Regions from separate parts of the Homo sapiens genome. Here regions 1, 3 and 4 are each linked to region 2. The links come from fine-mapping of genetic effects on gene expression. A gene starts in region 2. Each other region holds a variant in brackets. All regions are shown on one strand. Distances are between the middles of the regions.

Region 1 (2,500 bases), 130 kb before region 2:
ATTTCTGGCATATAGGGCATGGGGAAATTTTTCACCTTAGGGGCAAAAGTGTTGAAGAGTGGGTTTTTAATTCCATGAAGTCCAATATATCAATTTGTGATATTTCTTGATTGCTTGAGTTTTTGGTGTTGTGTCTAAGAAATTACTCAGAGGCAAACACTTTTGCATTAGAAAATGGTACCATGGACATTTTATTTTCAAGTGAGGAAAGAAGGCTGGTAGAAAAAGTGGGAATCTTGGTGCAGACCAAAGGTGCATAAAACCACTTTTAAGTCTTTTCTCTACGCTGGCAGGGGTGTGTCTGCACATTCTCTATCAATACAAATAGGAAATGCTTAGTTCTCAGATTCATTTACCCTCTACATATGTGACCAGGGTTTTCTACTCAAAAAAAAAAAAAAAAATTGCCGGATGCAGTGGTGCACACCTGTAGTCCCAGCTACTCGGGAGGCTGAGACAGGAGAATCACTTGAGCCCAGGAGGCGGAGGTTACAGTGAGCCAAGATCGTGCCACTGCACTCAAGCCTGGGTGAATTTCTTTTCTTTTCTTTTTTTTTTTTAAGAGACAGGGTCTGGCTCTGTGGCCCAAGCTAGAGTACAGTGACATGATCATAACTCACTGCAGCCTTGAACTCCTGGGCTCAAGGGATCCTCCTGCCTCAGCCTCTTGAGTAGCTGGGATTCCAGGCACTAGCCACCGAGCCCAGCTTGTGACCATAGTCTTCTGACAGAACAAATGTGCCTAAATGAGTTTTAATCAACCTGCCTCAATCAAAAGATACTTTGTCAACTAACGAGAAAGGGCAGCCTCTCATGGCTGTGCATTAACACCTCCTTGCATTTCACCAGATCCCTCTGGAGCTGTGGAGACGACAGGAGAGGATCCAAAAGTGAGGGTCATGCGGAGAATTTATGGTCCTCCTGCCAATTTAAAAAGTTACTCAAGTAACTGCTGGTAATGAATTCACACGCTTCCACTCTACCCTTTCACCCTCACACCTCC[C/T]TAGTCGGACTCTTGGCACCATCTTCACAAATTTTCTGCATTCCATTTTCTGTTTATTAAAAGTATCCATTTGTCAGATCCTTTATGAGCTCTACAAGGGAAACAAAGATGAATGTCTCCATAAGCAAAGGGGCTTATAAAATAGGCCTGGGCTGGGCTCTTGGATAGAGGAGTCTCCTTCCCTGCAGTAGGCAGGGATGCAGTGGGGAGGAAAGGGGTGGGGGAAGGGAATAGCTTCTCCAATAGAAATTTTAAATCATTTTAATTCAGTGACAACTGCATTATGCAAATGCATCCAGTCGTTTATAACAGTTACAGCTGTAATAGCTACGTGTTTTAGAGGCGCGGTGGGACTTTAATACAAAGATCCCCTGTTTCTTCTCTCTTCTGCAGAGGTGCTAGGAAAATCACTGTCTGCGACAGGAAAAACACCCTAAGCTGAACAGAGCCTCCTTTTTAGAAAACGGACCTGCAAAAGTATTTAAAGGGAATGTTATCTTTTAATTAAAGTAGTGAAGGGCTCTGGGCGGCCCTGAAGGCCACAGGCAACAGAAAAATATCCTGTCTGTAAAACTAATCTCAAAAAGCAAATAGAGCTATTCTATGCTAATTATAGCCTTCACCTTATGCGGAAAATTATATATCCTTCTCACCAAGGTTCCTTTTTTTTTTTTTTTGAAAGATTCTGAAGATGGGGAAAGATGTACCTACTTCTTAAGACATAATAGCACCACTGAACACGTACGAGGTTTTTTCTGAAAAAATTTGCTATTGTGGTAACCACTCTAAGTATTCTATTTCATCCCCAAAATAACCTTATAAGGCAAATGCTCTTTTTACCTCCATTTTACAGATGAGAAAACTGAAAGAGAAAGATTGAACAAGTAGTCCAAGGTCACAAGCTTTAGAAGCAGCAGAGGTGGTATGCGGTCGTTTGTCCCCAGGCCAATGGTTCTCAAAGCGTGATTCCCATACCAGCAGCATTGGCTTCACCTGTGGTGAGCTCTCTTGCACTCCAAACTTACGGGCCGCACACCACCTGCTGAATCAAACCTCTGAGCAGGAGGCCCAAGAAACTGTCCTAACAAGCTTTCCAGAAGATTCTTATGTTTGAGGACCCCTGAACTGTATAGTGTGTACTTTCTCTCCCATTTTAGTAACCACCTCATTTCTTCTTCCTAAAGATTTTGTACTTTGTGTCCTACTAGCCACCTGCCCCAGGCCTAATGTCTCATTTTTTCTTTTCTTTTCTTTTTTTTTTTTTTTTTAAGTAGAGACAGGTTTCTATTAAAAAAATAGAGTCCAGGTGCCTCTGTCACCTGGACTGGGGTGCAGTGGTACTATCGTAGCTCACTAGGAATGATATGGACAGGCGGCAGGGAAATACTGGGTAGAAGAGGGTGGTTCCCTGCAAAGGCCCCACCTTCAACACTGGAAACCGTGGGCATTACCTTAGGAATAGTCAAACTCCAGGGGAAGATTATCTTCCTATTCCTT
Region 2 (2,758 bases):
GGATGGAGGGATGGATGGACGGACGGACGGACAGATATATGGATGGATGCATTATGGATGGATGCATGGACGGACGGACGGATGCACGGAGAGATGGATGGATGCATGGATGGATAGATAGACGGATGGACGGACGGATAGATAGATGGATGCCGGAAAGGAGAAGAATGAGAGACGGATGTGAGACTAGATGCACGCAGGCCAGAGCACCAGCATACGCTGGAACAGAGCACGAGCATACACTCGAACACACGCGCACACACTCAGGACATCTGCGCACAGACATACAATCCTCCGCGTCCGCTTCCACGCAGGCATTCGCGCACCTACATACACGCAGTTGCACGCGCGCGCACACACACAGGCACACACACGCAGACATGCACACACACGCAGACATGCACACACACCACACATGCAGACATGCACACACACGCAGACATGCACACACACACCACACATACACACACACACACACACAGTTCGCCTCTCCCTGGGTTTCTCAGAAACTAAATGATCACCGCCCCCCCGCCCCGCCCCACCTCCCGACACAGACACACAGGCACATACAATCCTCCCAGCACGTCCGAACGGATGCACAGAAAACTGAGCACCCAGACGGGTCCCGTCGACCCCGCACGTTAGCTCTAAACTGTGTGCAATTCTGGGGCGAAAAGCTAAAACTCGACTGCGTTCAACTTGCCGGCGGGTTCCCCAAGTCTGCGGGGCGAAGAGCTCGGGCCCCTCAGGCCCGCAATCGCACCCTCGGGGCGCTGGGCTTGGCGAGGAGAAAGGTGTCTGACTCCGGGTGCTAGAAATCAGGTCACTGGCGCCTGACGAGCGGCGCCACGACCGCTGCGCTGCGGAGCAGGCCCCGCAGCCCGGTCCCGAGAAGCGCAGGGCTCGGGAAACTTTGCAGAAACCAGAGCTCGAAAGGCTTTCGCTAGAATCCGGGAGCACCAAGCCTTCACTGTGCTCCAGGCTGCGTTTTCCCCTCGCCCCGGGCTGGCTCAGGAGAGGACGTGGTTCTTGTAATTTTTTTTTTAAATCCCGGCGTTGTCTCCCGTGCATCCCCTCAGGGCGCCTCGAGCGGGCCTCTCTGGCGGATGCTGATAAACTTTGGCCTTTGGTTACAAACTTGGACAGACCCGCCGCGTGCACGGGTCACCGCCTCGGGGCAGGCTGTCCGGCGGTTCCCCGCTGCCCCTTCGCCGATCCCCTCGCCTCAGCCCCCTTCTCCCGAATCGGGACGCACCATTCACACTGGGCTCCCCCCGCACCACCTGGCCCTGCGCTCCTGAGGACCCCTCACCCGCGATGGCCCCTCGCTGTCCCCGACCACAGAAAGGCCGTCCCGCTCTTACCTTCATTCGCGGGGTATACCCTGGAACCTGTGACAGCGTCGCAAATCCCGAAGAGACACGAAAATAGGGCGAAATAGAAAATCCCAGCCATGGTTCGCCGGTGCCAACGCTGCTCCTGCCGCTTCTATCCCAGTGGAATAAATGCTTAAGTTAGGAGAGCAGCGGGCTGAAGACATTGCCAAGGGGGCGGGCCCGGCCGGTGACGTGAGCCCGCCAGTCCGGGGCCCGCGGCCAATGGCGGCGCAGACAGGGCGGCCGAGCCCCGCCTTCACCGAGCAGGGCCCGCCCCAGGGTTCCGCCCCCTCCGGGCTCCACGGGGCGCGCGGTCTCCCGGGGCTCTAGGGGGCGAGCACGGCCGGTCCCCGCCCCCGCCTGCCGGAGGGAGCCAGCGGGATCCCCCACGTTACCTCGAAGGTCGAGCCCCTGGACGGCGGAGGGACTTTGGAAAAGCTCGGAATTGACCGAGGGGAGCCAGAGAAGAGGTTGGAAACCTTTTCTCCCACCACGGGCGGTTTAAGATGGAGGAAAACGCTCTTTTATTGAAATAAAAGAAGTCTAAGCTGACCTGCGGTTGCTTCTTTAGGAGAGTCGACGTGTCTGCGTCCAGCGCGCCCGGGCTGAGCTGCAGACTCGCGCCTGCCACCGCCACCCTCTGCCACCTTGCCCTGTTTTGTCTTTATGGCGCTTCCCCCTCTGAAATACTCTTTGCGGGGAGTTTTGTGGCTCTATCACTCGCTTCTTCCCTGGCTCCCCAGATGCCTGGAGAGCGGGGACCTACTTGGTCCCCAACGTCCAGTCCGCAGCAGGGCTCCGTCACTGTCTCCAGAGACTGAACGAATGACTTTCTAGCAGTAAGGAAGTCCCCGCTGGCCCCGTCCCCCTGCACACGCCGTGGACCTCGCCCAGGGCCCAGGACGCCCCGAGATGGCCTTGGGCAGGGAACCAGTTGTGGATTTCCCGGGGGCAGGGTTGGGGGCAGTCCCTGGAACCGGGCCTAGCCCGTCTGGGAGCGGTGGGGTAGAAGTGAAAGGCTTAAGTGTGGGTGCGGGGACTTGCAGCCGCACAGACAAGGCAGACCGGGACTGGGAAGCTGCCCGGAGCGGCTGCTGCGACTCTCCGCTCCGACCTAGCCGGGGCAGCCCTCCCTGCCCCGGGAGAAGACGGCGAGCAGGAGGACCCGCAGAGCCCCGCCCGGCTGCTCCGGCCCCGGGGGCACTGGCACCATCGGGCTGTGGTCTTTTCCCGATGCCCGAGCCGTGGACGCGGCCACCTAAGAGCGGTCCGGCGAAGGCAGCGCAGCCGGTGTCCCAGGGACCGGTCCCCAACGCCACTCGGTGCATTTCCCCAGGCGCTGGCAGGGGCACTGATTCCTAGCAATGAGGCCTCCCTTCCCC
Region 3 (2,500 bases), 81 kb before region 2:
CTCAATAAATATCTGCTAAATGAACAAATGAATGAATGATGATGCTTTAGCCCAGTCCAGCTCACTAATCAGAAGCATCACTACCATAGCACTATGGCTGAGCACAGTGGCTCATGACTGTAATCCCAGAACTTTGGGAGGCCATGGTAGGTGGAAGGCTTGACAAGCCTAAGAGTTCAAGATCAGCCTGGGAAACATGGTGAAACCCTGTCCCTGCAAAAATTATAAAAATTAGCCAGGTGTAGTGGCATGTTCCTGTAGTCCCAGCTACTTGGGAAGCTGAGGTGGGAGGATTGCTTGAACCTGGCAGGTGGAGGTTGCAATAAGCTGGGATCATGCCACTGTACTCTAGCCTGAGTGATGAATTGAGACCCTGTCTCAAAAAAAAAAAAAAAAACCCACTGCCATAGCACTTTTGTATGTCACAAAAGCTAAGCAAAATAATAATAATAATAATAAAGAGAGAAAAAATGGCAATCACATGCTAAAATGTAAAAAAAAAAAAAGAAAAGAAAGAAAGAAAATCAAGTCTGCAACCAAGGCAAGAAGACAGTTGATAGAAAAACCAAAGTCTCTGGTCTCATGTGATAGAGTAGTTTCCAGAGCTATCACAGACATCTAATACTTAACTGATTTTTAATCGCCATTTTAAAATTCAATGCCTGGGCTATGAAATTCATTCTGGATGGGAAATGGAGCATCCCCCAAGAGCATGGGCAGAAAGGTAACTCTCCCATGATCGATGTATTTAAGCACTGCTGTCACCTCACTAAAATGCTAAGGCAACCAGTCCAACACATATCTTGGAGGAAGCAGCACCTTGGGTCTGTAGTTCCATTTCCTAAGGCTTCATTAATCATGTACAACTTTTGGACTGTCAATAGCACTTCAGCGTCTTAGCTGTAAAACCCTTCAACCCTTCAGATAAGCCTTTGTTGTTAATCTCTCTCCAGCTGAAAGACAGGTTATAAGGAAGAGTCAACAGTT[G/C]GGATGCATTACGTTTTGACTCTGAAATAAAGCCCATGCTTCCCCTGACATTTGTATATGTTGCCACCACTAATTGCTTTCTCCCAGTCCTATCTGCTGTGGGTTAGTTTACATAAAGATGGCTGTTTTAAAGACATCCCTCCTGACATATATGAACAGTGCATAACCTCTTATCATGGTGGTTTATGTGTTTTTACAACAAAGACAGCCAAGCAGGGCTGTCCATGATTAAACCAGAACCTTTTGGATGCATCAATCACTTGCTGCTGTCATGAAAAATTCTTGGCTTCCTATAGAGGTTCATTTCTTGTTGTGAGACTTTCCCATAACCTATTTTTCTGGTTCTATCTCCTTTCCCATTCTCCTCTCCAGTGATCTTTGTCTTTTTTTTACTGGGTTAATTAGGGGTTTGGTTTCTTTTTATTAGGATGACTTGTTTATGGCTGAAGTGCCTTATAAATTCTCAGTTATACACAAGAAAGCTACCACGCCAAAGACCAAGAAAAGTAGAATTGAGTATTTCATTTTTAAAATTATCTAGCCTGTGCATTAATTTACTTTCCTTGCAAAGCACTTTTTTGTATCTTATTTAACAGCTGCAATCAAATCTGACAGAAAAGTATTTATTGTTCACAACAATCTGATCGCCAAAAACTAAGATAAGTTAAGCAAATTGCCAAAATTAAGACAGCCAACATGCGCAAAGCTGTGATCAGAAACCCTGACTCCAAGGCTAAACAACCCTGCTTCCCTTTCATAGAGATACAAATAATATAAAGAAAATAATAACCCATAATTACAAATTCTTTTTGAGAATTGGATAGAAAGTTTCCAACTTTCTCAGTTCACCCCAGAGTTCAATTTCACCTCACTTCCCTGCCCTTCATGATGATGATGGCTAGCTAGTACTACTTCCCAGATGATCCTCTTTTATCATTTTCATGGGGATTATCTTTTCTGCCTTGTTCCTACCTTCTGTGCAAGAGAGTGGCTAGGAGTTTCTATTAAAGGTTCTTTTTCTAGGTGGAAGATCATAGGAATAGGGCGAGGGGCAATTATATCTCTATAGCAGAATCTCTCATAAATCTAAATGTTGATAGCAAAGAAGATACCCTGGGCTGAGTGTGGTGGCTCGTTTCTGTAATCCTAGCACCCTGGGAGGCTGAGGTGGGAGAACTGCTTGAGCTGGGAGGTGGAAGTTGCAGTGAGCTGAGATTGCACCACTGGGAGACAGAGTGAGACTCTGTCTTAAAAAAAGAAAAAAAGAAGATACCCCGTTCTCACCCCAGGGGATCTCAGAAAAATGTGTAATTAACCTTGTTTCATAGAAGCATGCTGTGAATAACCACTGTATGACTTCCATGCATAGTGTCAAAAATGGCATCCAGAAATGACAGGACTCGGTCAATGACAAGCCACTCTTAATTATTCAGGGTGGTAGAAAAATTGTAATAACCTGGCTAAATGGCATTGGCAGATTATTCAAGCCTTCCACTTGGGCATATATTAGTGT
Region 4 (2,500 bases), 73 kb before region 2:
CTCTACTAAAAACAAAAACAAAAACAGGTGTGGTGGTGGGCGCCTGTAGTCCCAGCTACTCGGGAGGCTGAGGCAGGAGAATCACAAACCCGGGAGGTGGAGGTTGCAGTGAGCCGAGATCACACCACTGCACTCCAGCCTGGGTGACAGAGTGAGACTCCATCTCAAAAAAAAAATGAAAAAATAAGTAAGTAAAGTAATGCACAAGACCTTGAAGTAGTAAAGTGTAGGAGAAGGAGTTCCAAGAGCAGGTATTTTCATGGACCTTTTAACAATGACACAAAAAGCCACCAGCCTTCCTTCCCTTCACCTTGTGGAAAATGACTTCTGAAACATGCAAATGTTACTTTAATTTTTAGACTTTTTGGTCCATCCATATGCTAAAATCAAATTTTCTCTTCTTCCCCTTTGCATCCTTAAGATAAAGCTAACAGTTAAAAATACAATTCCAAGGGCTCAACTACCACAGCCTTATTACACATACATCAAATGTTCCAGCAACACAGACATATGGCCATCTTTGGAGGTTTCCTAAACTCCCAAGTAGCAAGACTTGGTAATAAAGTGATGGGCACATGGTCCCCTTAAATGCTAAACAGGTCAGCATCATGAGACTGAAAAATACCTGGGAGAAAGAGCCAGGACCTCCTGCCATCAGAGATACATTTCATGACACTCATAATACAATCAAATCTCAACCTAGAGAAGGCTTTATCTGCATGGAAAGTAAGTGGGGGAGTACATGATGCAAATTGAGGGCCATCCTCAAAATGTCAGCCTCAAACACTTCCCCTTGAGTTTACTATTGTGCCCCAGATTCCTACAAGAAAATTGTTGGTAGCAGGTGTGGATAAAGATGGGGAGTTTATTATTAAACTAATCACACAAATGGAACATAGCATGAAAATATTTACATTGGAAAAGAAAAAGGTTGGGACTGAAGAGTTCAAACAAAAGTGGCCACGCAGAGAAAGTTCTTAGTCTATGGAGGAACAGGAAAGAAAGAAAGCAAAAACAATCCTTGCCTATTTACAGTTTTTCTGTTTTCGTTTTTTTTTTTCTAAGACAGGGTCTTTTTTTGTCACCCAGGCTGGAGTGCAGTGATGTGAATGCAGCTCACTGCAGCCTTGACCTCCCAGGCTCAAGTGATCCTCCTGCCTCAGCCTCCCAAGTAGCTGGGACCACAGGTGAAAGGCACCAGTCCTGGCTATTTTTTTTTT[CTTTTTTTTTTTTTTTTT/C]GAGACGACAGAGTTTCCTCTGTCATCTAGGGTGGAGTCCAGTGGTGCAATCTCGGCTCACTGCAACCTCTGCCTTCCGGTTCAAGCAATTCTCTTGCTTCAGCCTCCTGAGCAGCTGGGATTACAGGCTCACACCACCACGCCTGTCTAATTTTTGTATTTTTAGTGGAGACGGAGTTTTGCTATGTTGCCCAGGCTGGTCTTGAACTCCTGACCTCAATAATCCGCCTGCCTCGGCCTCCCAAAGTGCTGGGATTATAGGCCTGAGCTACTGCATCTAACCTTTTTAACAGTTACATCTGAGACTGACCCTAGGATTCTCCCTAACTCTGAATGTTTATGCTTGACTTGGGAGAGCCAGCAAGAGAATCTCCCAGATTCTCTATAATAGAATAATATAAAATAGAAATAATATAAAATATAAATATAATAATATAAATATAATAATAATATAAAATAGAAACTAGGTGAGTCTTCAGGTTGTACAACTCTGTCCAAGGTAGGGTGTGATCTTGAGCATGTTCCTTAACATCTCTGAGCTTGCAGTTACCTTTTCTATAAAATAAAGATTATACCTACCTAACAGATTTCTTATAAACCACGTATTAAGATTTTTTTCAAGTACCTAATACATTACCTGGGCATAATTATAAAATTGTCATCATCATCATTATTATCTCTCATTATGAAAGAAACTCTGGAGGTTACAGCAATTTGAATATAAAGTCAGAGAGACCTGGAGACTCACTCCACTCATTTTAAAGACAGGACTTGATTGCCCAGTGGCCCAAAGTGCTCAAATACCCAAAAACCTTTTATTTGCAGGGTTGTTAGCTCCAGATTGGCCAAAATACCATTTATAGTAGTTAGGAAACAAAATAATAATAGTCATAATGATAACTAAAACTAATATATATATATATATATATATATATATATATATATATATATTTTTTTTTTTTTTTTTTGAGACAGAGTTTTGCTATTGTCACCCAGGCTGGAATGTAATGGTGCGATCTCGCCTCTCTGCAACCTCTGCCTCCTGGGTTCAAGTGATTCTCCAGCCTCAGCCTCCCAAGCAGCTGGGATTATAGGCACCACCCACCATGCCAGCTAATTTTTGTATTTTTAGTAGAGACGGGGTTTCACCATGTTGACCAGGCTAGTCTCGAACTCCTGACCTCAGGTGATCCGTCCACCTCAGCCTCCCAAAGTGCTGGGATTACAGGCGTGAGCCACCGCTCCCGGCCAAAGCTAAAATAT

Evidence for each region.
Region 1: its variant is fine-mapped to the expression of EPHA4 in whole blood (TOPMed, PIP above 0.99).
Region 3: its variant is fine-mapped to the expression of EPHA4 in whole blood (INTERVAL, PIP above 0.99).
Region 4: its variant is fine-mapped to the expression of EPHA4 in whole blood (INTERVAL, PIP 0.97).

Annotation. Positions count from the first base shown.
Region 1 is chr2:221,438,944-221,441,443 of GRCh38, forward strand. The region is part of intron 11 of EPHA4 (EPH receptor A4); the gene reads right to left. Among named protein-coding and RNA genes, the nearest start is that of EPHA4, 130 kb to the right of the region's middle. The variant C/T (reference allele first, on the strand shown) is at 1,004.
Region 2 is chr2:221,570,794-221,573,551 of GRCh38, forward strand. It overlaps EPHA4 (EPH receptor A4), which reads right to left and starts at 1,511. Exons shown (of 18, transcript NM_004438.5): 1 at 1,365-1,511. The coding sequence starts at 1,455. RefSeq lists silencers at 1,467-1,886, 2,487-2,758.
Region 3 is chr2:221,489,766-221,492,265 of GRCh38, forward strand. The region is part of intron 4 of EPHA4 (EPH receptor A4); the gene reads right to left. Among named protein-coding and RNA genes, the nearest start is that of EPHA4, 81 kb to the right of the region's middle. The variant G/C (reference allele first, on the strand shown) is at 988.
Region 4 is chr2:221,497,570-221,500,069 of GRCh38, forward strand. The region is part of intron 4 of EPHA4 (EPH receptor A4); the gene reads right to left. Among named protein-coding and RNA genes, the nearest start is that of EPHA4, 73 kb to the right of the region's middle. The variant CTTTTTTTTTTTTTTTTT/C (reference allele first, on the strand shown) is at 1,221.